Homo sapiens: one gene and its partners. The protein of the gene in region 1 interacts with the protein of each later gene in a biochemical or structural test. Each region holds a gene or a part of one and is shown in the gene's direction. Other genes may lie near its edges. The genes, in order: TLR4, SIGLEC6, TNR and SIGLEC7.

The links.
Region 2: the proteins of TLR4 (region 1) and SIGLEC6 form a complex in vitro, tested with the Homo sapiens proteins (one study listed by IntAct).
Region 3: the proteins of TLR4 (region 1) and TNR form a complex in vitro, tested with the Homo sapiens proteins (one study listed by IntAct).
Region 4: the proteins of TLR4 (region 1) and SIGLEC7 form a complex in vitro, tested with the Homo sapiens proteins (one study listed by IntAct).

What each region holds. Positions count from the first base shown.
Region 1 is NC_000009.12:117,709,582-117,717,970, forward strand, and holds part of TLR4 (toll-like receptor 4 isoform A precursor), read left to right. Parts: intron 1-2,807; coding exon 2,808-5,067; 3' UTR 5,068-8,389.
Region 2 is NC_000019.10:51,516,241-51,523,305, reverse strand, and holds the end of SIGLEC6 (sialic acid-binding Ig-like lectin 6 isoform 1 precursor), read left to right. Parts: intron 1-3,050; coding exon 3,051-3,224; 3' UTR 3,225-5,487; downstream 5,488-7,065. UniProt on the Homo sapiens protein: Putative adhesion molecule that mediates sialic-acid dependent binding to cells. Binds to alpha-2,6-linked sialic acid. The sialic acid recognition site may be masked by cis interactions with sialic acids on the same cell surface.
Region 3 is NC_000001.11:175,388,939-175,397,327, reverse strand, and holds part of TNR (tenascin-R isoform 1 precursor), read left to right. Parts: intron 1-520; coding exon 521-784; intron 785-3,432; coding exon 3,433-3,548; intron 3,549-5,889; coding exon 5,890-6,040; intron 6,041-8,389. UniProt on the Homo sapiens protein: Neural extracellular matrix (ECM) protein involved in interactions with different cells and matrix components.
Region 4 is NC_000019.10:51,146,939-51,155,327, forward strand, and holds the end of SIGLEC7 (sialic acid-binding Ig-like lectin 7 isoform 1 precursor), read left to right. Parts: intron 1-282; coding exon 283-379; intron 380-5,984; exon of another isoform or gene 5,985-6,124; coding exon 6,125-6,307; 3' UTR 6,308-6,588; downstream 6,589-8,389. UniProt on the Homo sapiens protein: Putative adhesion molecule that mediates sialic-acid dependent binding to cells. Preferentially binds to alpha-2,3- and alpha-2,6-linked sialic acid.

The sequences.
Region 1 (8,389 bases):
CTTATTTGCAAATCGAACTAGATAATGGATCATGTTCTCTGCAATGGTTTGTAAAACATTTCAAAACATTTTACATATTTTTTATTATAGAAATTATTGATAAAGACTAAGGTCACAGTATAAAAATCCTTTTTAGAGCAGACATTTCTGTAGAAGAGTGAGCATACGACCTATTATACTCTAATTTGGATATAGATAGGATGTAACAAAGGAGTAATGGAACAATTCAAAGGCAGTGGTATAGTGCATAGAGTCCTGTTGGGGTCAGAAGACCTGAGCCAAGTTTACCCCCAACCTTTATAACCATGTAACCTTAGGCATATTACTTCATCTCCCTTAATCTTAGTTTTCATATCTGATCAATGGAAATGATGAAACTTATTCTGCTGGATTAAATGTGATAATAAATATTAATATGCTGTATATATTTAAATTTTTATAAAATATATTTTATAAGCATAAAGTATTCTTACAGAATTTCATTAGGTTTTTAAAATAATTTCAACTTTTATTTTTGATTCAGGGATTTACATGGTTATATTGCGTAATGCTGAGGTGTAGGGTACAATCGATACCATCACTCAGGTAGTGAGCATAGTACCCAATAGTTAGTTTTTCAACCCTTGCTGCTTTCTCTCTATCCCCTCTCTAGTAATCCCCAGGGTCTATTTTTGTCATCTTTATGTCCATGTGTACTCCATGTTTGGATCCTACTTATAAAGTGAGAACTCATGGTATTTGGCTTTCTGTTCCTTTGTTAATTTGCTTAGGATAATGGCTACTAGCTGCATCTATGCCATTATGTTCTAAATTTCAGTTTCCTGCATGAAAATTTTGTCAAGTACTCTATTAAGGTAGACCACCTCTCCCTTTTTTTTTTTTTCAAACAAGAAGTAGTTTTTCACCAAACAATGTCTCTTATGTAATTCATCTTCAATCCACTGGATACCCAATAAACTTGCCCCAGAAACCTTAAATCTGTGCTTACAGAGAGGCCAGCTTCCCTTCTTGTTAACCCATAGGAGATTCTGAATTAGGGCAAGCACAAAAGATAGCACAATAGACATCCTTTGCCTTTTCGTACAGTGTTCACATACAGTAACTCAACTAGTCTTGTAAGAATGCTTTGTGATAGACCAGGCAGCCTTCTTTCCCCTATAGAAATATATATATATTTCTTTTTATAGGTGAGGAAACTGAAGCTTGAATAATTTAAATGACTTATATACATTATCATTGCTTGTTAGCCACAGACCAGAGATTTAAGTTCACATCTCCAGAATCCAACTTAAATGTTTTCTTTGTCTTAATACTCTACTTCTCTAAAGTGATTATCACCAATGTAATGATATAGAGACACAGCAAGACCCTTTCCTTCTCACCTAATGTATAGAGCAATGCAGAGATAGAATGATGGGCTATAACAATCATATAATTGAAAGAAAGAACTTCAAAAATAATCAAGTTCAGCTGTTTGATTTATAAATGTGATAACTAAAACCTAGAGAGGAAAAGAGGTACTCAAGATCACACAGTAGGAGAGGACTGCAGAAACACCAAACCCAAGCTCTTTTGTCCACTCTTCCAGCGTTCTTTCTACTATACTGCCTATCCTTTATCTAGTTACCAATAAATAACAAAAGCTTGGACCACAATGCTTTTATTGTCTAGGAAACTCCTGAAGAAGCTAAATAAAATGGGTGGGGAATATTGTAAATGTAATTCAGGCTGGATTAAGAAAGAACTTATTTGTACATTGTAACTGACAAGCACCTGCAATGCTGAAAGGAATTTTTCATTGGCTTGCTGTTTGCTGGCTGCATCAAAGCCCTGTCTCTAGGACATGTCTCTGAACATTGTGTGTAGCATGGCTTTCATTTCTTTTAGGATAAAATTCAAAACCCTTTATCTGGTTGGTAAACCTCTGCCTAATTGGGAACCTTCTTTCTCCACAACTCCATATTGTACACTCCAATTTCATCTCTGTTCTCCAACCATGGAAGCTATTTGTCATGATTCCTCCTTGTGTCATTTTTTTTCTGTCAACCTTGGGGCTTTTGTGTTTGCTGTTCACTTCACCTCCTTTTATTGTTAACTTCTACTCATCTTTCAATTTTCAACTTAAGTGTTCTCAGAGAAACCTACTTTGATTTTCTTGGTCCACAACGGTTCTCTGGATGTGAACTCTTATAGCACATAATTTTCACTTTTTTCCACAAAACTCGCTCCTATCACCTGTTACAAGCATTTACCTCTGATAACAAGAACTTTCAAATATCTAGCTGTCATGTAAGCACTTTTCATAAACATTAAGAGTATCTGTGACACTTATGTGTAATTTTTCGTATCTCTGAAATTGATATTTACCAGTCATTTATCTTGGCTACCAACTAACAACTATCCATATTATCTGTACCAATCAGATGTATAATCACAATTTTGTGTGACAGAAAATGGCTAAACTTGATCCAAGGCTATTACATGCTTTATCAACTGCACAATCTTTATATATGTCAATTATTGATCTTTAACTGATTTCCTTCTTATGGATTTTCTCCTCTGCTTATCATGTATGCCTAACATGACAAAAAAGAGCCTATCATTGCAGCCAGTATGATAATACTCAGTCTGTGGGGCTTCTTATTTGCTTATTCCATCATCATCTGTCCTGCTTGATGTCTTTGCCTATGCACAATCATATGACCCATCACATCTGTATGAAGAGCTGGATGACTAGGATTAATATTCTATTTTAGGTTCTTATTCAGCAGAAATATTAGATAATCAATGTCTTTTTATTCCTGTAGGTGTGAAATCCAGACAATTGAAGATGGGGCATATCAGAGCCTAAGCCACCTCTCTACCTTAATATTGACAGGAAACCCCATCCAGAGTTTAGCCCTGGGAGCCTTTTCTGGACTATCAAGTTTACAGAAGCTGGTGGCTGTGGAGACAAATCTAGCATCTCTAGAGAACTTCCCCATTGGACATCTCAAAACTTTGAAAGAACTTAATGTGGCTCACAATCTTATCCAATCTTTCAAATTACCTGAGTATTTTTCTAATCTGACCAATCTAGAGCACTTGGACCTTTCCAGCAACAAGATTCAAAGTATTTATTGCACAGACTTGCGGGTTCTACATCAAATGCCCCTACTCAATCTCTCTTTAGACCTGTCCCTGAACCCTATGAACTTTATCCAACCAGGTGCATTTAAAGAAATTAGGCTTCATAAGCTGACTTTAAGAAATAATTTTGATAGTTTAAATGTAATGAAAACTTGTATTCAAGGTCTGGCTGGTTTAGAAGTCCATCGTTTGGTTCTGGGAGAATTTAGAAATGAAGGAAACTTGGAAAAGTTTGACAAATCTGCTCTAGAGGGCCTGTGCAATTTGACCATTGAAGAATTCCGATTAGCATACTTAGACTACTACCTCGATGATATTATTGACTTATTTAATTGTTTGACAAATGTTTCTTCATTTTCCCTGGTGAGTGTGACTATTGAAAGGGTAAAAGACTTTTCTTATAATTTCGGATGGCAACATTTAGAATTAGTTAACTGTAAATTTGGACAGTTTCCCACATTGAAACTCAAATCTCTCAAAAGGCTTACTTTCACTTCCAACAAAGGTGGGAATGCTTTTTCAGAAGTTGATCTACCAAGCCTTGAGTTTCTAGATCTCAGTAGAAATGGCTTGAGTTTCAAAGGTTGCTGTTCTCAAAGTGATTTTGGGACAACCAGCCTAAAGTATTTAGATCTGAGCTTCAATGGTGTTATTACCATGAGTTCAAACTTCTTGGGCTTAGAACAACTAGAACATCTGGATTTCCAGCATTCCAATTTGAAACAAATGAGTGAGTTTTCAGTATTCCTATCACTCAGAAACCTCATTTACCTTGACATTTCTCATACTCACACCAGAGTTGCTTTCAATGGCATCTTCAATGGCTTGTCCAGTCTCGAAGTCTTGAAAATGGCTGGCAATTCTTTCCAGGAAAACTTCCTTCCAGATATCTTCACAGAGCTGAGAAACTTGACCTTCCTGGACCTCTCTCAGTGTCAACTGGAGCAGTTGTCTCCAACAGCATTTAACTCACTCTCCAGTCTTCAGGTACTAAATATGAGCCACAACAACTTCTTTTCATTGGATACGTTTCCTTATAAGTGTCTGAACTCCCTCCAGGTTCTTGATTACAGTCTCAATCACATAATGACTTCCAAAAAACAGGAACTACAGCATTTTCCAAGTAGTCTAGCTTTCTTAAATCTTACTCAGAATGACTTTGCTTGTACTTGTGAACACCAGAGTTTCCTGCAATGGATCAAGGACCAGAGGCAGCTCTTGGTGGAAGTTGAACGAATGGAATGTGCAACACCTTCAGATAAGCAGGGCATGCCTGTGCTGAGTTTGAATATCACCTGTCAGATGAATAAGACCATCATTGGTGTGTCGGTCCTCAGTGTGCTTGTAGTATCTGTTGTAGCAGTTCTGGTCTATAAGTTCTATTTTCACCTGATGCTTCTTGCTGGCTGCATAAAGTATGGTAGAGGTGAAAACATCTATGATGCCTTTGTTATCTACTCAAGCCAGGATGAGGACTGGGTAAGGAATGAGCTAGTAAAGAATTTAGAAGAAGGGGTGCCTCCATTTCAGCTCTGCCTTCACTACAGAGACTTTATTCCCGGTGTGGCCATTGCTGCCAACATCATCCATGAAGGTTTCCATAAAAGCCGAAAGGTGATTGTTGTGGTGTCCCAGCACTTCATCCAGAGCCGCTGGTGTATCTTTGAATATGAGATTGCTCAGACCTGGCAGTTTCTGAGCAGTCGTGCTGGTATCATCTTCATTGTCCTGCAGAAGGTGGAGAAGACCCTGCTCAGGCAGCAGGTGGAGCTGTACCGCCTTCTCAGCAGGAACACTTACCTGGAGTGGGAGGACAGTGTCCTGGGGCGGCACATCTTCTGGAGACGACTCAGAAAAGCCCTGCTGGATGGTAAATCATGGAATCCAGAAGGAACAGTGGGTACAGGATGCAATTGGCAGGAAGCAACATCTATCTGAAGAGGAAAAATAAAAACCTCCTGAGGCATTTCTTGCCCAGCTGGGTCCAACACTTGTTCAGTTAATAAGTATTAAATGCTGCCACATGTCAGGCCTTATGCTAAGGGTGAGTAATTCCATGGTGCACTAGATATGCAGGGCTGCTAATCTCAAGGAGCTTCCAGTGCAGAGGGAATAAATGCTAGACTAAAATACAGAGTCTTCCAGGTGGGCATTTCAACCAACTCAGTCAAGGAACCCATGACAAAGAAAGTCATTTCAACTCTTACCTCATCAAGTTGAATAAAGACAGAGAAAACAGAAAGAGACATTGTTCTTTTCCTGAGTCTTTTGAATGGAAATTGTATTATGTTATAGCCATCATAAAACCATTTTGGTAGTTTTGACTGAACTGGGTGTTCACTTTTTCCTTTTTGATTGAATACAATTTAAATTCTACTTGATGACTGCAGTCGTCAAGGGGCTCCTGATGCAAGATGCCCCTTCCATTTTAAGTCTGTCTCCTTACAGAGGTTAAAGTCTAGTGGCTAATTCCTAAGGAAACCTGATTAACACATGCTCACAACCATCCTGGTCATTCTCGAGCATGTTCTATTTTTTAACTAATCACCCCTGATATATTTTTATTTTTATATATCCAGTTTTCATTTTTTTACGTCTTGCCTATAAGCTAATATCATAAATAAGGTTGTTTAAGACGTGCTTCAAATATCCATATTAACCACTATTTTTCAAGGAAGTATGGAAAAGTACACTCTGTCACTTTGTCACTCGATGTCATTCCAAAGTTATTGCCTACTAAGTAATGACTGTCATGAAAGCAGCATTGAAATAATTTGTTTAAAGGGGGCACTCTTTTAAACGGGAAGAAAATTTCCGCTTCCTGGTCTTATCATGGACAATTTGGGCTAGAGGCAGGAAGGAAGTGGGATGACCTCAGGAGGTCACCTTTTCTTGATTCCAGAAACATATGGGCTGATAAACCCGGGGTGACCTCATGAAATGAGTTGCAGCAGAAGTTTATTTTTTTCAGAACAAGTGATGTTTGATGGACCTCTGAATCTCTTTAGGGAGACACAGATGGCTGGGATCCCTCCCCTGTACCCTTCTCACTGCCAGGAGAACTACGTGTGAAGGTATTCAAGGCAGGGAGTATACATTGCTGTTTCCTGTTGGGCAATGCTCCTTGACCACATTTTGGGAAGAGTGGATGTTATCATTGAGAAAACAATGTGTCTGGAATTAATGGGGTTCTTATAAAGAAGGTTCCCAGAAAAGAATGTTCATCCAGCCTCCTCAGAAACAGAACATTCAAGAAAAGGACAATCAGGATGTCATCAGGGAAATGAAAATAAAAACCACAATGAGATATCACCTTATACCAGGTAGAATGGCTACTATAAAAAAATGAAGTGTCATCAAGGATATAGAGAAATTGGAACCCTTCTTCACTGCTGGAGGGAATGGAAAATGGTGTAGCCGTTATGAAAAACAGTACGGAGGTTTCTCAAAAATTAAAAATAGAACTGCTATATGATCCAGCAATCTCACTTCTGTATATATACCCAAAATAATTGAAATCAGAATTTCAAGAAAATATTTACACTCCCATGTTCATTGTGGCACTCTTCACAATCACTGTTTCCAAAGTTATGGAAACAACCCAAATTTCCATTGAAAAATAAATGGACAAAGAAAATGTGCATATACGTACAATGGGATATTATTCAGCCTAAAAAAAGGGGGAATCCTGTTATTTATGACAACATGAATAAACCCGGAGGCCATTATGCTATGTAAAATGAGCAAGTAACAGAAAGACAAATACTGCCTGATTTCATTTATATGAGGTTCTAAAATAGTCAAACTCATAGAAGCAGAGAATAGAACAGTGGTTCCTAGGGAAAAGGAGGAAGGGAGAAATGAGGAAATAGGGAGTTGTCTAATTGGTATAAAATTATAGTATGCAAGATGAATTAGCTCTAAAGATCAGCTGTATAGCAGAGTTCGTATAATGAACAATACTGTATTATGCACTTAACATTTTGTTAAGAGGGTACCTCTCATGTTAAGTGTTCTTACCATATACATATACACAAGGAAGCTTTTGGAGGTGATGGATATATTTATTACCTTGATTGTGGTGATGGTTTGACAGGTATGTGACTATGTCTAAACTCATCAAATTGTATACATTAAATATATGCAGTTTTATAATATCAATTATGTCTGAATGAAGCTATAAAAAAGAAAAGACAACAAAATTCAGTTGTCAAAACTGGAAATATGACCACAGTCAGAAGTGTTTGTTACTGAGTGTTTCAGAGTGTGTTTGGTTTGAGCAGGTCTAGGGTGATTGAACATCCCTGGGTGTGTTTCCATGTCTCATGTACTAGTGAAAGTAGATGTGTGCATTTGTGCACATATCCCTATGTATCCCTATCAGGGCTGTGTGTATTTGAAAGTGTGTGTGTCCGCATGATCATATCTGTATAGAAGAGAGTGTGATTATATTTCTTGAAGAATACATCCATTTGAAATGGATGTCTATGGCTGTTTGAGATGAGTTCTCTACTCTTGTGCTTGTACAGTAGTCTCCCCTTATCCCTTATGCTTGGTGGATACGTTCTTAGACCCCAAGTGGATCTCTGAGACCGCAGATGGTACCAAACCTCATATATGCAATATTTTTTCCTATACATAAATACCTAAGATAAAGTTCATCTTCTGAATTAGGCACAGTAAGAGATTAACAATAACTAACAATAAAATTGAATAGTTATAATAATATATTGTAATAAAAGTTATGTGAATGTGATCTCTTTCTTTCTCTCTCTCAAAATATCTTACTGTACTGTACTCACCTATTTTCAGACCATAACTGACCATGAAACCTGGGAAAGTGAAACTGTGGATAAGTGAGGAACTAACATACATACATGATTGTTTATCTACAGATGTATGCCTCAGTTTCTTAGTATGCTTGAAAATGTATGATTTTGTGTATATCCGTGCTACATGTAAGTGTGGTTCTATTCATATTTGAATATGAATTCTGCATAAGTGTGTTTATTCAAGCAAATGTACAAGGCTCTGAGAAGGAAGATCAACATACAACTTGGAATATTTCAAGGCCGAAATATTCAAGGCTGACATTGGCCTCCTTCCTATCAGTTCCCTCTCCCAGATGGAAATTCTAGAAATGGCAGGTGAGGTGGACAAGCAGGGAAAGAAATTATATGCATAGAACAGAAGGAGAAGAAAGAGTAAAGTCAGGCCTCAGCCAGCCTCTTTTTAGCTCTTTAAATCCTCTGGATTTAAG
Region 2 (7,065 bases), on another chromosome or scaffold:
TCGTTTTTGTGTTTTCTTTGTGCCTCAGTTTGGAAAGTTTTTATTGCTACGTTTTTTAGTTCATTGCTATTTTCTTCTGCCGTACCTAATCTGCTATTAGCTTTTCTTTTTAGATATTGCCATTTTTCATCTCTAGAAATTCAATTCAGTTTATTTTTTTTTTCCTGAGACAGGATCTCACTCTGTCGCCCAGGCTGGAGTGCAGTGGCATGAACATGGCTCACTGCAGTTTCGACCTCCTAGGCTCAAGTGATCCTCCTGCCTCAGCCTTTCAAATAGCTATGACTACAGGCATGCACCACTGCGCCTGGCTAATTTTTTAAACAAATTTTTGTAAAGACAGGGTCTCACCATGTTGCCCAGGCTGGTCTCAAACTCATGGGCTCAAGCAGTACTCCTGCCTCGGCTTCCCAAATTGCTGGACTTACAGGTGTGAGCCACCACACCCAGCCCAGTTCTTTATAGTTTTCATTTCCTTATTATGTTCTGTTTTCCTTTAAGTTTTTGTTATTGTTGAGAGAGGGTTTCACTCTTTTGCCCAGGGTGGAGTGCAATGGCATGTTCTCAGTTCACTGCAACCTCCACTTCCTGGGCTCAAGCAATTCTCCAGCCTCAGACTCCCGAGTAGTCGGGACTACAGGCGTGAGCCACCATATCTGGCTAATTTTTTTGTGGGTTAGGGATTAGAGATGGGATTTCACCATGTTGCCCAGGCTGGTCTCGAACTCCTGAGCTCAAATCAATCTGCCCACCTCAGCCTCCCAAAGTTCTGGGATTACAGGCATGAACAACCATACCTGGCCTAAGTCTTTGAATATGTGTATTTATAGCCGTTTTTAATCTTCTTTTCTGCTAATTCCATCATTTGGTGATATGTTTCTATTTACTGATATACTTTTCATTGCTTACATTCCACAGCTTCTTCGCATAGGTAGTGATTTTGGTGGCATACTGGACATCGTGTTACATTGTTGATTATCCGGATATTTTAATCTTCCTTTAAAAATTGTTGAGCTTTGTTCTCGAATGCAGTTAATTTATTAGTGGATTGTCTTGACCATTCAAAGATTTTTACAAAAGCTTTGGCAGGGTGAGTTTATATTTGCCTTCATTCCAGCTTTCTCATAGCTGTTCCTTCTCCAGCAGCACGTACCCAGGCTTTCAGCCTTTCACTCTGTGCATACAGCTTAGTATTCAGCCAAAGATTCAAGGGGACCTCTATGCATATTTTTTGGAGTTCTTTCTCTGTGTAGTTTTTTCTCTCTGTACTCTGCTCTACAAATTCCACCCACATCATTCCCACTTGAACTGCAGTTGCTGCCTCCACAGTTTCATAAGACTCTTGTGTTCTGCTTGAATTTATCCTCCACGTACTGCAGTTTGGAAATTGTCATTTGATCATGAGACTCACCTCATTGGTTTCCTTTCTTTCAGATGTCACAGTCCTGTCTGCCTGTTTTCCTTGTGAAACACATATTTTACATACTATGTATAGTTTTCTAATTATGCTGGGAGGGTGCCAGTTACTCTACCATAGCCTGAGTGAGAACTGACCAAGAATAATTCAAGTCATGATTCCTGTTGTTCAGACCCTCAGGAAAAATTGGTGCTGGGGGAGGTAATACCTAGACTGTCTTCCAAAAGTCTGGGATGTGTGGATGGGGGAAGGTGGCCAGGGGAAGCCCAGGGAGAGGCAATTTCCACCTGTTATTTTCTTCATTCAGTAGGGCTTTTGTGCTGATCTGTCATTTCTCCTGCAGAAATTCACACCTTTAGTCTCGGACTTTGCCACTGATTTGTGTAGCAAGAATGCAGGCAGGAATATATTATCCCAATGATGGAGGAAAGACATGAGTGGAACATAAATCTCATTTCTGTAGCCATTCACGCACTGTCACCAATGCCTCCCTGAACACACACACACACATATACACACACACACACTCCAGTATAAAATATTTTGTTTCCCCAGAGATTTCCCACTTTTTCTTATTTGCTCATTCCATAATTTCTTGTATTGCCTCTTGGTTTATTTGGAGATATAACACACTTAGTGTGTGTTAAATCCCCACTTTGTTGGGAATCATTACATAATTTCTTTACCATGCTTTACTTTCAAGTTTTCAGGGGCATTAGAAAGAGAAGGTACAGGAGAGGGCGTCCGGTGGCCTGTACTGCAGGACCCGGTCTCTGTTCTGTCCTCCAGTACCTGTCTAGGAATCAGATATGCCACTCCTGCCCCTGCTTTATATTTCAAAATATCTGCTATCATGAATTAAAAAAGTGATTTTGTTTCCTGTTTTTAACTAACTGCATCTCATAGAAAACCACACTGCCTACTATCTGGGACTGTGTCTGCTTTCTTCATGGCTTAACATCTAGCACATGTCACATGACCTACACAACAATAAGCTGGTTCTGAGTCCTTCTCAGTGGTGCATTTATATAGATGTGTGTCTATAGGCAACATGTGGAGCCTCTCTTAGCCTTAGTGTTCCCGTTTGTAAGATGAATGTAATCATGGAATCCACTGCAAAGCATTTTTTGAGAATAGAATATGACTGATTAATGTAAACACTCACTAAGGGCTTGCCAATCTTAATTATTAAATATTTTAAAATAAATGAATGCGGTGGATGTGGTGGCTCATGCTTGTAATCCCAGCACTTTAGGAAGCCAAGGTGGGTGGATTCCTTGAGCCCAGGGTTCAAGACCAGCCTGGGCAACATAGTAGAACTCCATCTCTACAAAAATTAGCCAGGTGGGGTGCATGCCTGTAGTCCCAGCTACACAGGAGGCTGAAGCAGAAGGTTCATTCGAACCCAGGTGTTCAAGGCTGCCTGAGCCGTGATCATGCCGCTGCACTCCAGCCTGGACAACAGAGCGAGACCCCATCTCAAAAATAAAATAAAATAAAATGAAATAAAATAAAATAATAAATGAATGGATAAATAATAAAGTTCCATCAGTTCTACTCCCTTTCTGATCCTTGGCTGCTTTCTTTGAGAACCTATTGTCCAGCCCTGAATCTTTTCTTTTCTTCCATTAAGGGTCATCAGCACCAGTTCCAGACAGGCATAGTTTCAGACCACCCTGCTGAGGCTGGCCCCATCTCAGAAGATGAGCAGGAGCTCCACTACGCTGTCCTACACTTCCACAAGGTGCAACCTCAGGAACCAAAGGTCACCGACACTGAGTACTCAGAAATCAAGATACACAAGTGAGGAATTGTCCAAAGCCATAACCTTGATTGGAGAGAACATGGTACCTCTCAGTGTATTGGTTACTAGGGCTGCCACAGCAATGTACCACAAACCGAGTGACATAAACACAGAACTTTATTTTCGTATAGTTTCAGATGTTAGAGGTCTGAGAACAAGGTGTTATCAGGGTTGGTCCCTTCTAAGGCCTCTCTTGTTGGCTTGTAGATGGCTGTCTCCTCCTTGTGTCTTCACATGGTCTTTCCTCTGAGTGTGTTTGTGTCCTAATCTTCTCTTCTTATAAAGACACTAGTCATATTGGATTAGGGCCTCCCCATGACCTAATTTAAATAAATTAACTATTTAAAGACCCTCCAAATACAGTAACCTTCTGAGATATTGAGATTTAGGACTTCCAACATATGAATTTTAGAAGGGAACAATTTAGCCCATAACACTGTGTCCAATTCTTTTAAAATTAATGTTTTTGTTGTAAATGGACTATATAAATACCTTCGTATATATGGCAGACCACAGGACTTCTGTCCAAGAGAACTGAGTTCAACTCCATCTATGCCAGCTATTGAGCAAGTCGCTTTATGTCCCTGCTCTGTAAGGCAGGGAAATAATTTCCATCTAACCAGATTATTGTGAAAGGTCAAAGAAAGCATACAGCTAACATACAGCTTTGTTAGCTGTAAAACAGCTAACAAAGGCCCTGACACAAAGGTTTTCATAAAGTCTGTATATTTTTGTAAATGAATGCCTTGTATCTGGCTTTGGCTAGCTTTTTTTTTTTTTTTTTTTTTCTGAGATGGAGTCTTGCTGTATCTCCCAGGCTGGAGTGCAGTGGTGCGATCTTGGCTCAGTGCAAGCTTCGCCCCCTGGGTTCACACCATTCTCCTGCCTCAGCCTCCCAAGTAGCTGGGACTACAGGCACCCACCACCACACCCGGCTAATTTTTTGTATTTTTAGTAGAGACGGGGTTTCACCGTGTTAGCCAGGATGGTCTTGATCTCCTGACCTCGTGATCTGCCCTCCTCGGCCTCCCAAAGTGCTGAGATTACAGGCATGAGCCACCGCACCCGGCTTTGATTAGCTGTTTTAACAGACGGTTTCTGCTGGCAATTTCTTCTAAGGCTGAAAAGGAGTAGGCCCAGAGGCCACAGCACCAGGTGTCTGTGTCACCCCCTGTTCAGAACTCTTCACGACTCCCCAAAATAAGGTTTCCATCCATCATCTTTCTGCTCAAGGCTCTCTACATGATCTTGTCCATCCAGATTTCCCCAGATCAATTCCTCACCAGTCACCAATACCCCATGTCCATTTCCACAGCTTCCTCTTACAAATCCCAGTCTCCACTATTCCAGTGAAATTGAAGAAAGCATTTAATGAAGACCAACTATTAAGGAAAATTCTTAAGAGTAGCCATGAAAAATAAAAAGATAGATTACACTTAAAAGACCACAGTTAGCAGTGGCTCACGCCTGTAATCCCAGCACTTTGGGAGGCTGAGGTGGGTGGATCACTGGAGGTCAGGAGTTCGAGACTGGTCTGGCCAACATGGTGAAACCCCATCTCTACTAAAATACAAAAATTAGCTCGGTGTGGTGGCACTTGCCTGTAATCCCAGGTACTTCTGCAGGTTGAAGCAGGAGAATTGCTTGAACCTGGGAGGTGGAGGTTGAAGTGAGCTGAGATTGCATCACTGCACTCCAGCCTGGGCAACAGAGCGAGACTCCAACTCAGAAAAAGCAAAACAAAACAAACAAACAAGCAAAAAACCACAATTAGACTGACAGCTGACTTTTTTAGGAGCAATATTGGAAGGCTAAATGCAATAGAAAGATGTCTTTGATGGCTTAAGAGAAATAAATGTTGTTTTAGAAAGCCTACTCAATGAAAACACATTTTAAGACTGAAAGTGAAATATAGATATTTTAAGGAAAACCAAAATATGTGAGTGTTAATAAAGAAAAGATTTCTCAAATAAATTCTAAAACATATAATTCAGGTATTAGGAAAGTGATCCCAGATTAGATTTTTGAGATCCAAAAAAAATGAAAACCTAGGAAAGTAGCAAATATGTGAGCAAAATGAAACAAATACTTGTTGTAAAAATGATGGTTTGTAGAGGGGTCAAACATCAAATGTAATATTGAAATACCAATATTATATAGCCCAGAAACTATAATAACATAAAGTTCAGAAGAGTGTAAATAGAATTTATATTACATAAAGTCTTTATATTTTTCCAGAGAAAATTAAATGTTATGATGAATGTTACATTTGGATAATTTATTATTGTAATCTCGAGGAAATTTACTTAAAGATTCGAAGCCAAGTTTACCACCTGTGAACTAGAGGAAGTATAAAAGGTGATAGAAACATTATTCAGTCAAACCAGAGAAGACAAGAAATAAGAGATTAAAGAAAAAAAGGATGGATAGAACATGTAGAATACAAGTATAAGATTCTGTATTTAGACTCAAATACAGTCTAAGAATCACATTAAGCACAAGTGAATTAAATGCTACAGTTAAAATACCAGCATAGTAAGACTGGGGGAAAGTGTAGCTATACGTTGTTTATAAGAGATCTACATAAAAGATAAATATAGGGGAGGTTGTGTGTAGAAGGATGAAAAAAGACATACCATGAAAACCGTAACCAAAAGAAACTGATGTAGTCAGTCAAGTTTCCACTGGAAAAAACAAGTCTGTAGGATGTATGTATTGAAAGATTCAACTATTCACAATAGCAAAGACATGGAATCAACCTAAATGCCCATCAATGATAGAGTGGGTAAAGAAAATATGGTACATATACTCAATGAACTACTATGCAGCCATAAAAAAGAATGAGATCATGTCCTTTGCAGGGACATGAATGGAGCTGGAGGCCATTATCCTTAGCAAACTGACACAGGAACAGAAAACCACATACCACATGTTGACACTTCTAAGAGGGAGCTAAATGATGAGAACACATGGACACATAGAGGGGAACAACACACACTAGGGCATTTTGGAGGGTAGGAGGGTGGGAGGAGGGAGAATATCAGGAAAAAATAACTAATGGGTACTAGGCTTAATACCTGGGTGACGAAACAATCTGTACAACAAACCCTCGTGACACAAATTTACCTATGTAACAAACCTATACTTGTACCCCTGAACTTAAAATAAAAGTTTAAAAAAAGGAACTTCAAAAAAAAGAAAGAAAGACTCATTGCAAGAAAATGGCGTATGCTTTTGTGGGAGCTGGCTAGGCAAGTCCGAGATCTATAGGGAGGGTCATCTGGAAGTCCAAGCTAGGACTTCGTCATGAGCTCAAGCTGCAATCCACAGGGAGAATTTCTTCTTTCTCAGAGCAGCCTCAGTTCTGCACTGAAGGTCTTCCACAGATTGAATCAGGCTTACCCAGATTATGAAGCATAATCTTCCTTAAACTGATTATAAATCTTAATCATGTGTACAAAGCATCTTCACAGCAACACCTAGATTAATGTTTCATTGAATATCCTGGAGACTGTTACCTAGACACACTGACACATAAAACTGAATATATCAATATCAGAAAATATGTCTATTACAAAAAGAAGTATTAATGGAGGTAAAAGGGACCACTTCGTAGGGATTAAAGATTCAATCTACTAGGAAGATACATTTGAAATGTACCTGCACATGATAAAATAGCTTCAGAATACATAAGGCAAGAATAGGCAAAGTGAAAACAAAATAGCCTAATCCACATTTATGGAGGGCAATTTTTAACACATATTTTACAATAACTGATGGTACACACAAACAAGAGAATTGTTAAGGATATGCAACATAGTATACATAAATAACATGATTAACA
Region 3 (8,389 bases), on another chromosome or scaffold:
TCAATTACCAACATGACGTCAGTAAACATGGAGCTGGAAACAGATGTGTAGTAGAGTACAATCATAGAATATTTTCACCAGACAGAGCACACATAAATTATCTTAAAGGTACACATAATAGTAAAATGTAGTCAAATAATTTGAGAGTGATAAATTTTGAATATCTATTACCTTTATTTTTAATATAATTTACTTAAGTATTAGGTTATAAAATTGAATCTTTAATAATGGCTGTATTCAACGACAGTCTTGAAACAGTCCTGAAAATTTGACAATCAGCATTTACAAGCCAGTAGGAGCTGGCTCCAGTGCATGTTCATGACCTTATAGAGATTGGGGTACTAAGCACCAAAAAGACAAGAGCCTGCTCACAAAGGAAGTTACAAATCACTTAAAGCCATTGAGCCCAGCAGGACATATAGACATGGCATGGGGGGTGAGATGTGAGGAAGAAAGTTGAGTCCAGGATGGGGAAGGCAATCCTCTGAGCTCATGCTATCTGTGTATTGCCTCCCGGTAGTTGCCCCTCCAGAGGACTTGCGAGTGGCTGGTATCAGCGACAGGTCCATTGAGCTGGAATGGGACGGGCCGATGGCAGTGACGGAATATGTGATCTCTTACCAGCCGACGGCCCTGGGGGGCCTCCAGCTCCAGCAGCGGGTGCCTGGAGATTGGAGTGGTGTCACCATCACGGAGCTGGAGCCAGGTCTCACCTACAACATCAGCGTCTACGCTGTCATTAGCAACATCCTCAGCCTTCCCATCACTGCCAAGGTGGCCACCCGTACGTACCATTTCCCCGTCCTGCTTCATTTTTCTTTTCTCCTACATGAGATCATGGGCATTCATGATAGTAGCGTCTTTTCTTAGTTCTTCAGGGATGCCTGGAATAGTTATTGCCCTTGAGGGGAAGGGCTAGAGATGTGACCCATTTAGAAAGGGTACATCATTAAAAAGGCACTTTCGATTAAGAGAGTTTCCAAATTCAGGCAGCTTTCATAAATTATAGAACCAAAAGGACAAAAAGTACTTTAATTATGGAGTACTGGCTTGTTATAAGCTAGACTCTGACTAGAAGTCAAGGAAAGTGTAAGACATCTACAGACTTTGAATCAGTTAGGGATCCAAAACAAGGAGATATGAACTAGGACCTCTAAGAAGCAAGTGCTAAATGGTGTGTTCTCGACCATAAGTGTATAGCAAAGTGAGAAAAAAATCTTATTTAAAACCACAGCTGACAACATCCCCTTCTCCTGATAGAGAGGTGGCATAATTTCCTCCTGGTCTTTTGTTTAGTGAAATATCTTAATAGTTCATTTTAGTTATAAAAGTTGAAGCCCTAGAGCATAATTTAGAAGGATTCACAGGGAAGAAAGAGAGAGATGGAGACAGAAAGCAATCTAAACTGCTCTCCATAAGAAATGAACAGTTTTTTTTATACATAAAGGGAAACTTCTGTGGGTGTGTACCTATATTTTGTGTATGTTCAAGCATAGAAAAATATAAAAGATTACATAACAATTATTAACACTGACTACATCACAGAGTAGAATAAGAAGGAGATAGGAAATAATTATTATATTTTTCTTTATACCCCTCTGAATTCTTAAATTGATACAATAAGCCTGTTTTAGTTTAGAATTTCAAAAGCCAGGCAGAATAATTTAGGCAAGAGAAGTTCTCATCACCCCAAGTCTACTGCAAAACCTGCATGCACACAAATGCCTCTGTGCCTTATGTGGAAAGTCTTTGGAGAGATCATGAAAAAGGGGCTGTATCTGATTAAAATCTGGGAAGAGAGAAGAGAACATTCAAAGGAGATGAGGTATGAGTGATACAGAGATTTTTAGCAATACCAAGAAAGTGGAACAAGAAGTAACCATGAAAACATAAGCCCTCTAGAATTCAGAAAGCCCCCGGGCCAGTAAATAGGACTTACCACCAGATAAGGGGTAAGAGATCTGAGCCCATTTTGTGTAGGTAGATGGTATTCAGGTAACAAATGCCACGAAAGTTCAGAAAAGGAAAAGGTCAAGGTAGAAAGATTTAGCCTTGAAATCTTCATGGAAGCTCCAGGACTGAATTGACCTTTGAAGGATGCAAGGATAGAGACAGGCAGAGGGGAAGGAATTTAAGAAGTCATCTTGTCCCCTTGCTTTTCAGGTGACAGAAATTCTGCTATAATTTTGGACTCCGCTATGAGAAGAGTGCTGACTCTGTTAATATGCCTATAATTATCTCTGTTTATATTTGACCTTTTTTTAAAAAAAAAATCCTCTGGTGCCTGAGAACTGGTTTTAAATATCTGCAATGATTGTGCAGAGAGGCAGGTCACCATCTGCCGCTTTTCCCACCTTGCTCCGGGATGAGTCACCACCCTAAGTGCCTGGCCTAACTCCCAAGCGTCTCCTCTCTGATCCACATGCATGCACAGTGATGAGGTTTCCATCTCCTGTGGCATTTATTATGCCAATTCAGGGCATTCCCTCAGGCAAGCTCCCAGGTGACAAGGACAAAATCATGTAAACCACCTGACACAACTTCAAGTGGGCTTGCAGTCAGCCCTGCCTTCCAACCAAGAAGCATGAGAACTCTTCCAAACAGGAAGGATGAGAAAATCTGTCCTTTTTCCAATGGGAATAGCCCATGAGAGGCAAAGCTAAAATGGGAGCAGGCTTCCTGGAGAACTGAGAAAAGTCATGCTGTCATATTTCAGGGCTGATAATTGAAACTCCATTAGGACAAGCACACTTCCATCTCACAAAACCTGTGCATGTGTATGTGACTGTGTGGTTGGGGGAGAAGGGGTGGTGGGAGGAAAAGAGGGAGATACATGAAATGAAAAATTCAGACCATCCTAGACTTAGTGATTTGAGCTAAACAAAATACTCTCAATGTGCATCAGATGATCAAGGAAATCACTCTAGTATTAATTCTGAAACTGGTTTGCTCCACAACTTTAGCCAGCTTTCTCTGTGCCTCTCTTTTCCTGTGTGCAAAATGAGAACACTGATAGAAGCCATCATAGTACCTCCCGGGAGTCCTGTAAAGCTTCTAAAGATACTGCTCAAGTCCTCTGAAAAAGGCACTGTACTATATATGATATGCCAAGATCTACCACATTAGTAAGAAAAGAAAAATGATGTCTGCATTTTAATAGTAACCTATTAATGCAATAAAAAGCATTAAAAATTGTTTATATAGATTGTGTTTAAGTTAACTCATGTATTCCATCAACATCGAGCACTAGAGCCACATGGGGTGGGTTGATTCTGCACCTGGGACTCACTGTGTCTGGAGCAAGATTGGGATTGTCCACCAGACACCACCACGCCCATGGCGTGGAGGGAGTTCACCAAGACAAAGCACCAGGCAATGCTGTCTGTCCCAAGGGTTAGCCATGACATTGTCACCTACATTGCTGTGTTCCAGATCTCTCCACTCCTCAAGGGCTACAATTTAAGACGATCACAGAGACCACCGTGGAGGTGCAGTGGGAGCCCTTCTCATTTTCCTTCGATGGGTGGGAAATCAGCTTCATTCCAAAGGTAACACTCACCTGTTACACTGCCAAACAGACTTATTTGGAATATTTGTACCTTTAGCTTGGAATCAGGGGCAGCAAGGAAAGTGCTACCCAATATCTCTCTCCATGCCATTAAAGACACAAAATGGCATGTTGTGGGTGTCTGGGATATAGAACATTTCTGTGACAAATATGTGGTAACGACCTGCTGACAAGAGTAGCCCTGAGCATGGCACCCTGGCCTTGCAGAACAGAGGATGTGGGAAGCAGCCACCAGCTCCAGCTCTCTGCTGAGATAACTCTGGGGTCTGATGAGCCATAGTTTTGGTGAGCATGAAAACCAGACCCTGAAAAAATTGAGGCTTCTCTTTAGGACATAAGAAAAGCCAGGCTGAATCCATCACATAATCAGCCAAAAGCTTCATTCTGTGCAGACAGATGCACCACAGAAAAGTCAGCTTGCATGGCATCAATCCCTAAAGGTTACAGACATAAAACAAAACACCTTGGCTCTCCTGGATTATTCATAATACATTTGTATCCTATTAATTTAGCAACTTTTTTATTAGTCTATGACTTTTAAAGTATCCTAAGATTCCTTTCTACTCTCTAAAGCAGTATTTTATTTATTTTCTTAATTCTAAAACTAACTTTTCCGAATTGCCACAGGTGTATGCCTGGCTCTAAATTTCCAGAATTTGTTGACCCTACCAATGTCCTCCCTAACTGTACCACTCATGAGGATATAAAGTTCAATTATACTCCTTCCCTCTGTCTTTATTCTTCAACATCAAAGAACATTTTTTAGCCATTCATCAGACTTAATGACAAATGACACATTTTTGGCTAACAAGACCATGATTTCACCATTCTTTTACTTCAAAATTCTTAGAGCTGTGAACTGTTGGAGTTACAAAAGACCTTCAAGTTCACAGGTACGACCCCTCATTTTACATCTAGTTTAGTTTAATTTATAGACACTACGATTCAGAAAACTTGAAGGACATCATACAGCTAGTTGGTGACAGGCTTAAAACGAGTACCTGGGTCCCCACCACCTATCCCGGGGCTCTGTTCACTAAATCTGTATGCCCCATTTTCTTATTTACAGTCATATTATAGTCACATCACAGCAAGGTAAATAAATCTAAACAGACATCTATACAAATGTGTCCTATTTGAGTTAAAATGATAAATAAAATGTGGCAATTGAGTTACATAACAATTGAAACGATCATGTCAATTGGAATGGAACATTGCTACCAATGTTTTTCAGGAAGAAAAATTACGCCAGGTTCTCCTGTTACCTATACCCAATATGTAAAACTCTAATTAAAAGAGAGGCTGACCAGGGAATGCCAAGGTCAAATGCATGGCCACATGGTTTAATAACTGTTGTGATCTGTAGGTTGAGGCCACTGGGGAGCATTCATCACACTGATTTATAAGAGTATGACTGTAAATTACATATAAGGCACCCTGGGTACCATAAATAGAGGCCAAAGAATAGGGGAGAATGGCAGTGCCCTCCAAAAGAGGCCCTCTTGTCTCCTCCATTTCTAAGGACACTCATAGAAAGTATATGGAGGGAAAGAGAGAGAGGGAACGATAAGATAGAAAGATAGATAATAAATCCTAGATTCAATTTCGTCAAGTTACTCTTTCTCATTCCCTCTCCCTCTTGTCTCCTTCTTCTCTTCTTTGTATTATCTTTTTCCAAGCTTCCTTTTTCCTTTCTTTGTACTTCATATGTGGTTGTGTCACTGAGTCCTAATTCATCTGGGTGAAGGGGAAACAAGACATCGACAGATTCACACCGAATGTAGCACCATGAGAAACTCCAGATATAGCAAAATATTAGCTCTGGCTCATAAACAATTATCTCATAGCAATGTCTTAGTTTGAAATGTGTTGTGTGTGTATATAAAGATGTTTACACACAAACACACATGACTATCCTCTCCTAAATAGCCGGGGGCATGTTCATTACGATAAATGCCAAAAACCTCTGATGAATGTTAACCGCAACCATCAAACATTTGATCTTTGGCAAGAGCCAATCTGCACCACCTCATCACTAATTTTTATTGGCAAACTCAGCAAACTCAGGAGTGGCCAAAGAAATGTTCTTAAAAATTGATCCTCCATTTGCCAAATCCTCATAGGGTGGTGTCATTCTTATGGAGTCTATGGGGAGTTATTTCTGGCCCCAGATACTCAGCTGTCAGCATGGAGGAAAGAGACATCGCCCCCATTTTAAATTCACAATCCACAATTAGTATTCCACACCTTTATCTTTCTCTCATCAGATTTCTCTCCCAGTGACTTTTCTCTTTTGCTCTCTGCTTCTCCCCACTGTCCAGAACAATGAAGGGGGAGTGATTGCTCAGGTCCCCAGCGATGTTACGTCCTTTAACCAGACAGGACTAAAGCCTGGGGAGGAATACATTGTCAATGTGGTGGCTCTGAAAGAACAGGCCCGCAGCCCCCCTACCTCGGCCAGCGTCTCCACAGGTGAGTGCCTCCAACCCTTCTCCCTAGAGCTGCCTACTAGGTCACTTGGAAAAGAACCACAGAATTGCCCAAGGAGTGGAGAGACAACAGAGGTGCTAGAATTTCTCCTAGAGCTGGGACAATTCTGGTACCTGGCAATGGAGCTACTCTACCAGATGCTTAGCTCATCATCTTCCCTATTACTCATCCTTACAAATACTGTCATCTGGGAGAGTGTTTCATGGAGACAATTCTTTTTTAATATTTCCATTGTATTTATGCTGATCTTACTCATGAAGAACACTCATTTGTCAGCCTCTGGTGTCAATGATCTTTGGAAGCAGCAAGAGCTGACTCATTCTTACCTATGATGATATTTGGAGAAAGTCATCTGAACCTTCCCAAACTTCAATTTATTTTACAAGATAAGCAAGAATAATTTATGATAAACAAGAATACCTTCTTCATTAAGTTAATATGAGGATGGGATTAGATAAAGCACACAAAGCAATCAGCTCTGTGCTGATGAGAGTGAGTGCTCAATACTTGGTATACGCACATATACTCAGAACATACTCAGAAGTGAAAGTGGTAGGAAACAAGTCATTCAAAAATAAGTAGGTATGGGTTGGGTCACTGTTCAAGGTGATGGCTTAAGTCTATTATTATTTCATCCCACAGATCACCTCATTCAAGATTATTATATTTCCAGGATTGATTCATTAATTGTCATATTTTGCCTTATTGTATCCTCAGCTAACAAAGAGTGTTCAACTTCAATGCTGTAAATTAGCTATTGTGATGTATAAATGTGTGTGTGTCCTCACCAAGAATGTCTCGAAAGTTATAAATAGCATCTGGCATAAGTTTTGGTTCTCATTTTATTGTTGATGGAGCTGAAACTCAGAGGCTAAGCAACTTTCTCTGTCAGTAACAGAAATTGAGATAGGTGACTATTGGTACAGCTTTATGTGTTTTTCATAAACAGAAATTGATGTACCAGAAAGCCAGTTTTAAGTCCAGGACAAAAGGCTGAGTTGACCAGAGATGAGAACCACAACACAATGTAATGAGACCACATTTATAGATTAGTGATTCATGCTCTGCTACTGAATCCAAACCAAACAGCATCAGGTGCCAAGGCTTAAGCTCAGTTTAGAAAACGTTGGTTCAGAACTATTGTGGCAGTAGCTTGTGTTCCATTAGTGCACCAAGGTTCTATGGCAGTGCCTTGAGGCTAGAATCCAGTGGAAAGCCAGACCTCTAATTACTCCCTCTTTCATGCCTCCAACCAGGACAGCTCCACTTTGATCTGTTTTATATTTTGTACATCCATTTAAGATTTTTGTCCTTTAAAAAATAAGTTTACCACCCAAAAAGCTTTCAAACCATGGTTCTGCTCTAAATAGTATGTTTTAGAAGAAACCCCATAACCATAAAAGCTACAGTGCTCTGTAGGAATCCCTCCAGAAGGCCGGTGGCTGAGGTTTTCCACAGCTCCAAGGTTATGCTGTAACCTGAAGAGTTGACATTCGATAACTTGGGGGCAGAAAGGTGTGATGCCCTTGCTCACCCATCATATAAGCATCACAACAACACTGCTATCACAAAAGACAGGTTAACAAGAGAAAGCGTAACAAATTTATTTAATCAAAGTTTCACATGACAAAGGAGCCTTCAGAAATGAAGACCCAAAGACCTGGGGGAAATTGTCTGTTTTTACGCTTAGGTTTGAGGAATAATGGACAGCCATGTAGAAACGTAATTGGACAAATGGCTATGATCTAATGGTAATAGTCTAAGGGGGAGACCCAGCAAGGCCTGTCTGCCCAGATTCTTCTTGGCCTCTCTGTGAAGCATTTCTTCTCCACCTCCTCTGTGGGACAAGACCTCACTGGAATGAGGGTCCTCAAGGGAGAAGGGAGGAGGGAAAAAGTTACCTTTCTAGGTTTTATGGCTTGCTTTGAGGAAAAGGAGTTCTAGTTTCTATTACCTGCCCTGAGGAAGAGGAATTCTGATTTCTGTGAATCACTTCAAAGGGAGAAGAAGGGTCAGGAGATGGGAGGACTGCAGATGGTCAGAAAGACCTTGCTTGCTTCCGGGGCTGTTTCTGAGGCTCTTTCATTCCTCTTTAATTCAAAGTACTCAGCACACCAAGGTGCCAAATTTTGGAGTGTCTGTGATGAGCCCAACAATAGCAGGTGCAGCTTCTCCTCTTCTGATATGAAATGTTACAAGGTGCCCAAGTTATTCCTGTGATTTGATATTAAGAAAGTATTAGTAAAAGACAAAAGGCTAAAAGGAGAAGATGGTTCATAAGAGGATAGAAAACATTGCAGTTGAAGAATATTTTTCTCCTAGAATATTGAC
Region 4 (8,389 bases), on another chromosome or scaffold:
CATGGGTCAAGAGCTTGGGGCAAGAATGAGCTCACGGGTGCGTGGCAAGAATTTCAAGAGCGCCCTTGTCTGTGGGGCTCCACATCTGTGGTGAACCTTGGGCCCCACCACCCAGGAGGCAGGAGCCTCTGTTTTCAACACTGGGGTCTCTGGGACTGGACCACCCTCCTCCCACCTCAGTTACCCCTCCAGCGCCCCAACAGGAAATACAGGGCAGGGGTTGGTCTGCCCACTGCACCCCGATCTGACCACACTGAAAGGCTCTCTGGTCTCTTCACTCAGAGTGAGGTCCTGCAGGAAGAAATCGGCAAGGCCAGCAGCGGACGTGGGAGACATAGGCATGAAGGATGCAAACACCATCAGGGGCTCAGCCTCTCAGGTGAGTGATATGGGCGTCTCCACACCCAGCATCCAGCTGGGACATCTCCCACAGGATGGCCTCCAGGATTTCTCTGCTTATCATGGCCAAAATTATCTCCTCATCTCCTCCTCCTTCCCACCATCCAGCTTCTCCTGCAGGATTCCCCATCTTGCTGACTGCATGACAGTCCCTCCTACCTACTTTCTCTCGGGCCAGGCATGGAGGAGGAGTTATCTCCTCTCTGTCCTCCCTTTCTTCTCTATAGCTCCACATTCACCAAATCTTGTCCATTTTTCCTCCCTAAGAATGGCTAGCATTGCTCCCACCCCCACCAATCCTAAACTCTCTCAATGCTGAGGCCTGAGGATCTCTGTCTTGGACTTCCTCACCTCCCTGCCTCTTGTGTCCCCTGCCCTGATGGGAGGAATCATTCAGAAGCCATCACTGATCAGTTTCTTTGCATCTGGACAGCTGTTCCCACCCCCAACACTGTCTAGAGCAGAAGCCAGAAAATACTATCTGGAAAGGCCAGATAGGAAATATTTTTGGCTTTCTGGCCTACACAGTCTCATTGCAGCTCCTCAACTCTACTGATGTAGCAGGAAATCAGCCGTAGACCATGTGTAAATGATTAGCTGGCTGTGTGCCAGTAAAACTTTATTTATAAAAACAAGCTGTGGGTAGAATTTGTCCCAAGGGCTCTAGTTTGACAAGCCCTAACCTAGAGAAAAAGCCCAAACTTCATAACTGCAGCCCTGCACATTCTCGTCTCTTAAACATCTACCTCTCTAGCAGGGCTGGAATTAGTGTGAGATGAGTGAGGTCCTGGCCTAGCATGCAAAATTTAAGAAGGTGCCAAAAATCTCAGTAATTGTGATAGTTTTAAAAAAAACTCTTATTTTAGGTTTGGGGGTACATGTGCAGGTTTGTTACATACATAAACTCTGGTCAGAGGGGTTTGTGGTACAGATTATTTTGTCACCCAGGTCCTAAGCCTAGTACCCCACAGTTATTTTTTTCTGTTCCTCTCTCTCCTCCCACCCTCCACCTTCAAGTGGGCCCCAGTGTCTGTTGTTCTCTTCTTTGTGTTCATGAGTTCTCATCATTTAGCTCTCACTGATAAGTGAGAACATGCAGTATTTGGTTTTCTGTTCCTGTGTTCGTTTGCTAAGGATAATGGCCTCCAGCTCCATCCATGTTCCCACAAAAGACATAATCTCATTCTTTTTTATGGCTGCACAGTATTCCATGGTGTATTTGTACCATATTTTCTTTATCCATTCTGTCATGGATGGGCATTTAGGTTAATTTCATATATTTGCTATTGTGAATAGTACTACAATGAACATTTGCTTGTATGTGTCTTTATGGTAGAATGATTTTTATTACTCTGAGTATAAAACCAGTAATGTGATTGCTATGTCAAATGATAGTTCTGCTTTTAGCTCTTCAGGAAATTACCATACTGCTTTCCACAGTGGTTGAACTAATTTACACTCCTGCCGACAGTATAAGTGTTCCCTTTTCTCTGCAGCCTTGCCAGCCTCTGTGATTTTTTTTACTTTTTAAAAGTAGCCATTCTGACTGGTGTGAGATGATATTTCATTGTGGTTCTGATTTGCGTTTCTCTAGTGATCAGCGATAATGAGCTTTTTCTCATATGTCTGTTGGCCAAAAATGTCTGTTCATGTCCTTTGCTCACTTTTTAATGGGGTTGTTTTTCTCTTGTAAATTTGTTTAAGTTCCTTATAGATGCTGGATATTAGACCTTTGCCTAATGCATAGTTTGCAAGTATTTTCTCCCATTCCGGTTGTTTACTCTGTTGATGGTTTATTTTGCTGTGCAGGAGCTCTTAAGTTTAATTAGATCCCATTTGTCAATTTTTGCTTTTGTTGTGATTGCTTTGGCATCTTTGTCAGGAAATCTTTGCCTGTTTATCCAGAACGATATTGCCTACATTGTCTTCCAGAGTTTTTATAGTTTTGAGTTTTACATTTAAGTTTTTAACCCATCTCGAGTTGATTTTTATATGTGGTATAAGGAAGCAGTCCCACTCAATCTTCTGCATGTGGCTAGACAGTTATCCCAGCACCATTTATTGAATCAGGAGTCCTTTCCCCATTGCTTTTTTTTGTCAGCTTTGTTGAAGATCAAATTGTTGTAGGTGTGTGGCTTTATTTCTGGGCTCTCTATTCCGTTCCATTGGTCTATGTGTCTGTTTTTGTACCACTACCATGCTGTTTTGGTTACTGTAGACTTGTAATATAGTTTAAATTTGGGTAACGTGATGCCTCCAGGTTTTCTTTTTGCTTAGGATTGCCTTGGCTATTTGGGCACTTTTTTGGTTTCATATGAATTTTAAAATTGTTTTTTCTAGTTCTGTGAAGAATCTCATTGGTAGTTTGATAGAAATAGCATTGAATGTATAAATTTCTTTGGGCAGTATGGCCATTTTAATGATTTTGATTCTTTTTATCCATGAGCATAGTATGTTTTTCCATTTGTGTCACCTTTGATTTATTTGAGCAGTGTTTTGTAATTCTCATTGTAGAGTTCTTTCACCTCCCTGGTTAGCTGTATTTCTAAAAATTTTATTCTTTTTGTGGCAATTGTGAATGGGATTGTGTTCCTAATGTGACTCTTGGCTTGGTAGTTCCTGATGTATAGAAATACTAGTGATTTTTCTATATTGATTTTGTATCCTGAAACTTTGCTGAAGTTATTTATCATTTAAGAAGCTTTTGGGCTGGGACTACGAGGTTTTCTAGATATAGAATCATGCATCTGCAAAGAGGGATAGTTTAAATTCCTCTCTTCCTATTTGGATGCTCTTTATTTCTTTCTCTTGCCTGATTGCTCTGGCCAGAATTTCCAATACTACGTTAAACAGGAGTGGTGAGAGAGGGCATCCTTGTCTTGTGCTGGCTTTCAAGGGGAATGCTTTCAGCTTTTCCATATTCAATATGATGTTGGCTCTGCGTTCACCATAGATAGCTCTTATTATTTTGAGATATGTTCCTTTAATACCTAGTTTACTGAGAGTTTTTAACACGAAGCGATGCTGAATTTTATCAAAAGCCTTTTCTGCATCTATTGAGATAATCATGTGTTTTTGTCTTTAGTTCTGTTTGTGTGGTGAATCACATTTATTGATTTGTGTATGTTGAACCAACATGAAGCCGACTTGATCATATTGGATTAACCTTCTGATGTGCTGATGGATTCAGTTTGCAAGTATTTTGTTGAGGATTTTTGCATCAATGTTCATCAAGGATATTGGCCCGAAGTTTTCTTCTTTTGTTGTGTCTTCGCCAGATTTTGGTATCAGGATGATACTGGCCTCATAGAATGAGTTAGGGAAGAGTCAGTCTTCCTCCGTATTTGGGAATAGTTTCAGTAGGAACAGAAGGAGGCTCAGATCTGACATTTATTGTGTGATTGAAGAGCCTTCCAGGCAGAGGGAGGAGCAAAGCAAGGCCCAGGCACAGGAAGAGGAAAGGAGAGGAGCCATGGGACATCTGTGTGATTAGACAGAGGGAGGCAGGACTGAGAGCAGGAAATGACTTTGGAGGAGTTGAGCCTATGTGAATTGTGTCTGACTGCACAGGCTACTGTGAGCATTTGGAGAGTTTTGAGCAGAAGGACATGATCAGACGAGATTGGGTCCGTTCAGGGTGGTATAGCTGTAGACCAGAAGAACATGATCAACTTTCATTTTCATGGGATTCCTCTGGCCACTGTGTGCAGAAGAGACCGTGTGTGTGGCAGGGGAAGGAGAGAGCATAGGAGGTAGACAGGAGGCTGGTGAACATCCCAGGCAGAAGGTGGTGTTGGCTGGAACCAAGATAGCAGCAGTGGTAGACATGACTGTCTCCCAGATGAATTCTGCAGTGGAACCTACTGGGATTTGTTAATGAATTGGAATTAGAATGTGAGCCACAGAAAGGGAGCAAGAATTACTTCCAGATTTTTGCCCTGAGCAGTGGGAAGAATGGAGGTGCCAATCATTGAGGCTGAGAAGATTGCAGAAGAAATGGATTTGGGAAAGAAAAGGAGGAGTTCAGATTGAATAGGTTGAGTTTTGTGTGTCTTTGGACAAGAACGCGGGGGTTTGAATTATACCACTGGATCAAAGACTATAGTCAGGAGAAAGGAGTGGGCTGGGGGTACAGATTTGGGAGTCATTAGCCTATTGATGGCATGAAGCCAACACAGTGGATAAGATCACAAGGCAAAGGTAAAGAAGAAAAGAACCCGGGGCTGCTCTGATATTTAAGGTCAGGGAGACCTGAAGCAATTGGCAAAGAGGTTGCCAAGAAGGTGAGGTGGACCCAGAAAAGCATGATGTCCTATAGTTGAGTCAAGAAGGCCTTCTGTGTAGGGAAGGTGAGCAGCTGGGTCCTCTGCTGCTGAAAAGTCCAGGAAGGAGAAGACTGCAAGGTGGACATTTAGACTCAGCCACTTAAGTGGTAGTCACAGTGACCTTGATAGTAGCAGTGCTTAGACTTGGTATGTGTGTGAATATTAATTTGAGTAATCAAGAGAGAATCTGGCAAGCAAAATCACTGACAGTTCCATGGAGCATCTTCTGCACAGGGGAGCAGCAGGGAAGGGCTGCGATGAAGGAGGACCCTCCCAGGCAGCCTCTGTCACTCTCTGCTGTGTGAGTCTGTATTAGTTTCCTGTGGCTGCTGTGACAAATTACCATGCATTTCCTGGCTTCCAACAACACACATGGATTAAAGTTCTGAAGGTCACAACCCCAAAATGGGTGTCACTGGGCCAAAATCAAGGCATTGGCAGGCAGGGCTGGTTCCTTCTGGAGGCTCCAGGGGAGGATGCAATTTCTCACCCTTTCTGGCTTCTAGAGGCACCTGCATTCCTTGGCTCAAGTCCCTTCCTCTGTTTGCAAGGCAAGTAGCCTGGCATCTTCCAATCTCTCTAAGCCCTCCTCCTTTCACTTGTAAGGACTCCTGTCATTCCACTGGGCCCACCCAAATAATCCAGGATAACCTCCCCATGTCAATATCCTTAACCTAGCTCCATCTGTAAAGTCCCTTTAGCAATGTAACGTAACAGATTCACAGGTTTCAGGGGATTAGGGTATGGACATTTTGGGGAGCAGTTATACTTCTTATCAGAGGATATAATTTCTTTGACTGAGTTGTCCTCCCCATACCACCGAACTGTGAGCTTCCTAAGAGCAGGTGCCCCATCCAAATCAAGGCCCTGTAATTCTCTCTCACTTAGCCTCTTCCTGCCCATCTTATAATTCACACATAGATATTCGTTTGTTTGACAGTCATTTTTGCCAAATTCCCTCAATTAAAAAGTGAGTTTCAGGAGGTCAGGGCCAACACCTACTGTGTCCACCACAGTCCATCCAGCACCCGGATCAGGGCTTCACACACAGAGGGCCCCAGCAGGACTCCAGGCTTTGGGGTCAGAAGGAAGGGACTGGATTGGGTCCCGGCATAACAGGGAGTTTGGGTACGCTACTTTCTTCATGGAGTTGTTGCGGGAAGTTAATAAGATTAATAAACACCAAACAAGTTGCTCAATAAGTGTTAAATATTGCAGGAAAGTATAAATGAAGGAGATTTCTATAAAATGAACGTGGGATAGAGGCAGGAACTCATGAAGTTTAATTCTATACAGAGGAATATATCCGAACCAACCAACCGATCAAACAACTTGTGACTCTCCCTGCCTTATCCTATTTCCACTGCTCTGCTCTGACTCTCTTCTCTCTCTCCATTCAGGGTAACCTGACTGAGTCCTGGGCAGATGATAACCCCCGACACCATGGCCTGGCTGCCCACTCCTCAGGGGAGGAAAGAGAGATCCAGTATGCACCCCTCAGCTTTCATAAGGGGGAGCCTCAGGACCTATCAGGACAAGAAGCCACCAACAATGAGTACTCAGAGATCAAGATCCCCAAGTAAGAAAATGCAGAGGCTCGGGCTTGTTTGAGGGTTCACGACCCCTCCAGCAAAGGAGTCTGAGGCTGATTCCAGTAGAATTAGCAGCCCTCAATGCTGTGCAACAAGACATCAGAACTTATTCCTCTTGTCTAACTGAAAATGCATGCCTGATGACCAAACTCTCCCTTTCCCCATCCAATCGGTCCACACTCCCCGCCCTGGCCTCTGGTACCCACCATTCTCCTCTGTACTTCTCTAAGGATGACTACTTTAGATTCCGAATATAGTGAGATTGTAACGTGTTTGTCTCTCTGTGCCTGGCTTATTTCACTCAACATAACATCCTCTAAGTTCATCTGTGTTGTTTCCAATGACAGAGTAATGTACTGAATAATTCAAAATAGCTAAAAGAGAGGAGTTTAAATGTTGTCACCAAAAAAAAAAAAAAAAGATAAAAATTTGAGCTGATGGATGTGCTAATCATGCTGACTTGATCGTTCCATGGTGCATCGAGGTGCGGGAGCCTCACGGGGGCTGCGTTCAGGTCGCTCAGGTACTCAGGGCAGGACTGGAATTTAATCCCTGCCTGATTCTGAGGTCTCTTCTCTCACCCGGCACCCAGCACTGAGTGAAGCAACCACTGACTGGGCACCCCTTAGCCATAAGTTTGCAGCATCTCCGTTGACTCCATGGCCTCTGGTGAAGGAATCCGAGAACCTGGACACACAGGAGCTGAGAAAGGAGGCGCCTGAAATTACAGCCCAGCTCTGCGCATGGCCTGCCCCAGCCTGCATAGCTCTGATCAGCAGATAGAGCTTCCAATGGCCATGCTGCCCATGATTTCATCCCCAGGGCCCTGGTTGGGTCTGCAGACCTCCGCCAGGAGCCCCCATCTCCGGACCTTGGTGTGACTGGGCTGGGTCCCTCTCTTGCTGGTCCCCTCCAGAGGGACCCTGGACCCTTTCCAGCCTCACAGGCCCTATGGAGACCCCAGCCCTTCTCCATCACCTTCTCCTCACCTGCTTGCCCCTCTGGTCTTGTCCTCGGGTCTGAGGACATGCAGCCTGATTTGCCCTATGGGGAGAAATCAGGGAAGAAGTCACATCTCAGGTCCATAAGAAACACGGGAGAGTCCTGGGTAGAGAGGTGAAGGGGCCCAACTTCCTGCCAAGTCCAAGCCCAAGCCCTCCCCATGTGGGACCCTAGGAGGTAGAGGAGATGGTCTGCGGTCTTCACCTCTCCACTGAGAGTCCTCAACATCCTCATACTTTTAAAGATTTCCAAGGGCACAGGAGGCAGACGCCATTGTGTGGGGGAAAGAGGCCGGGTGAAGCTGAGGAAGGAGTTGACACTGTTGGCGCAATTACCAGGGGTAAGTAACAACAATGATGGAGTTAATAATAATAATTTATTTCACACTGTTATGTCATGCCATAAGACGTGCCATCAACTCTGGAAATTAGGTTAGTTATTATTACCCCTGGGGGCAGGGAGAGCAGCTTGTTTATCTTTTGTTATTAGAGGCCCAAGAATCAAGCCAAGAGCTTGGTGAAATTTGTGGGGAGTAGAGATTTGTCATGGTCATGGAGCTATGACAAAATCCCGTCCCATCCCTGCATCTTTCTAATTCCTCATCTTGGAGGGAGCTGAGGGGAACAGTTGAGGCCACAGGCTGTGGGTTCGGCCTGCCCGGGCTTGAATCCCACCTCTTCTGTGGGTTAGCACTGAAGCCTTAAATAAAATACTCAAACTCCATGGGGCTTAGTTTTCTCACCTGTAAAGTGGAGGTGAGGCTAATCACATTCACTTTCTCCATAGAGAGACAGTGAGGGTCAAGCAGGTTAGAATGGTGGTGGGCACATGGTAAGTGCACAGCTAATGTCCACCACTCTTATCCCCCTTATCCCCCTGTGACTCACCCTGACTCTGATCTGAGGACTCCAGAGGATTCATAGAGGAGGCATCTTTGGACCCAGACCTGAGAGGACTGGGAGATTTCACCCAGAGGTTGTGAGCATGTCATGGCAGGGTGGAGGTGGCACTCCTGAGGGTGGGCACTGCCTAGCAGGGCATGGAGGCAGGGAGATGTGCAGAGCATGAGCC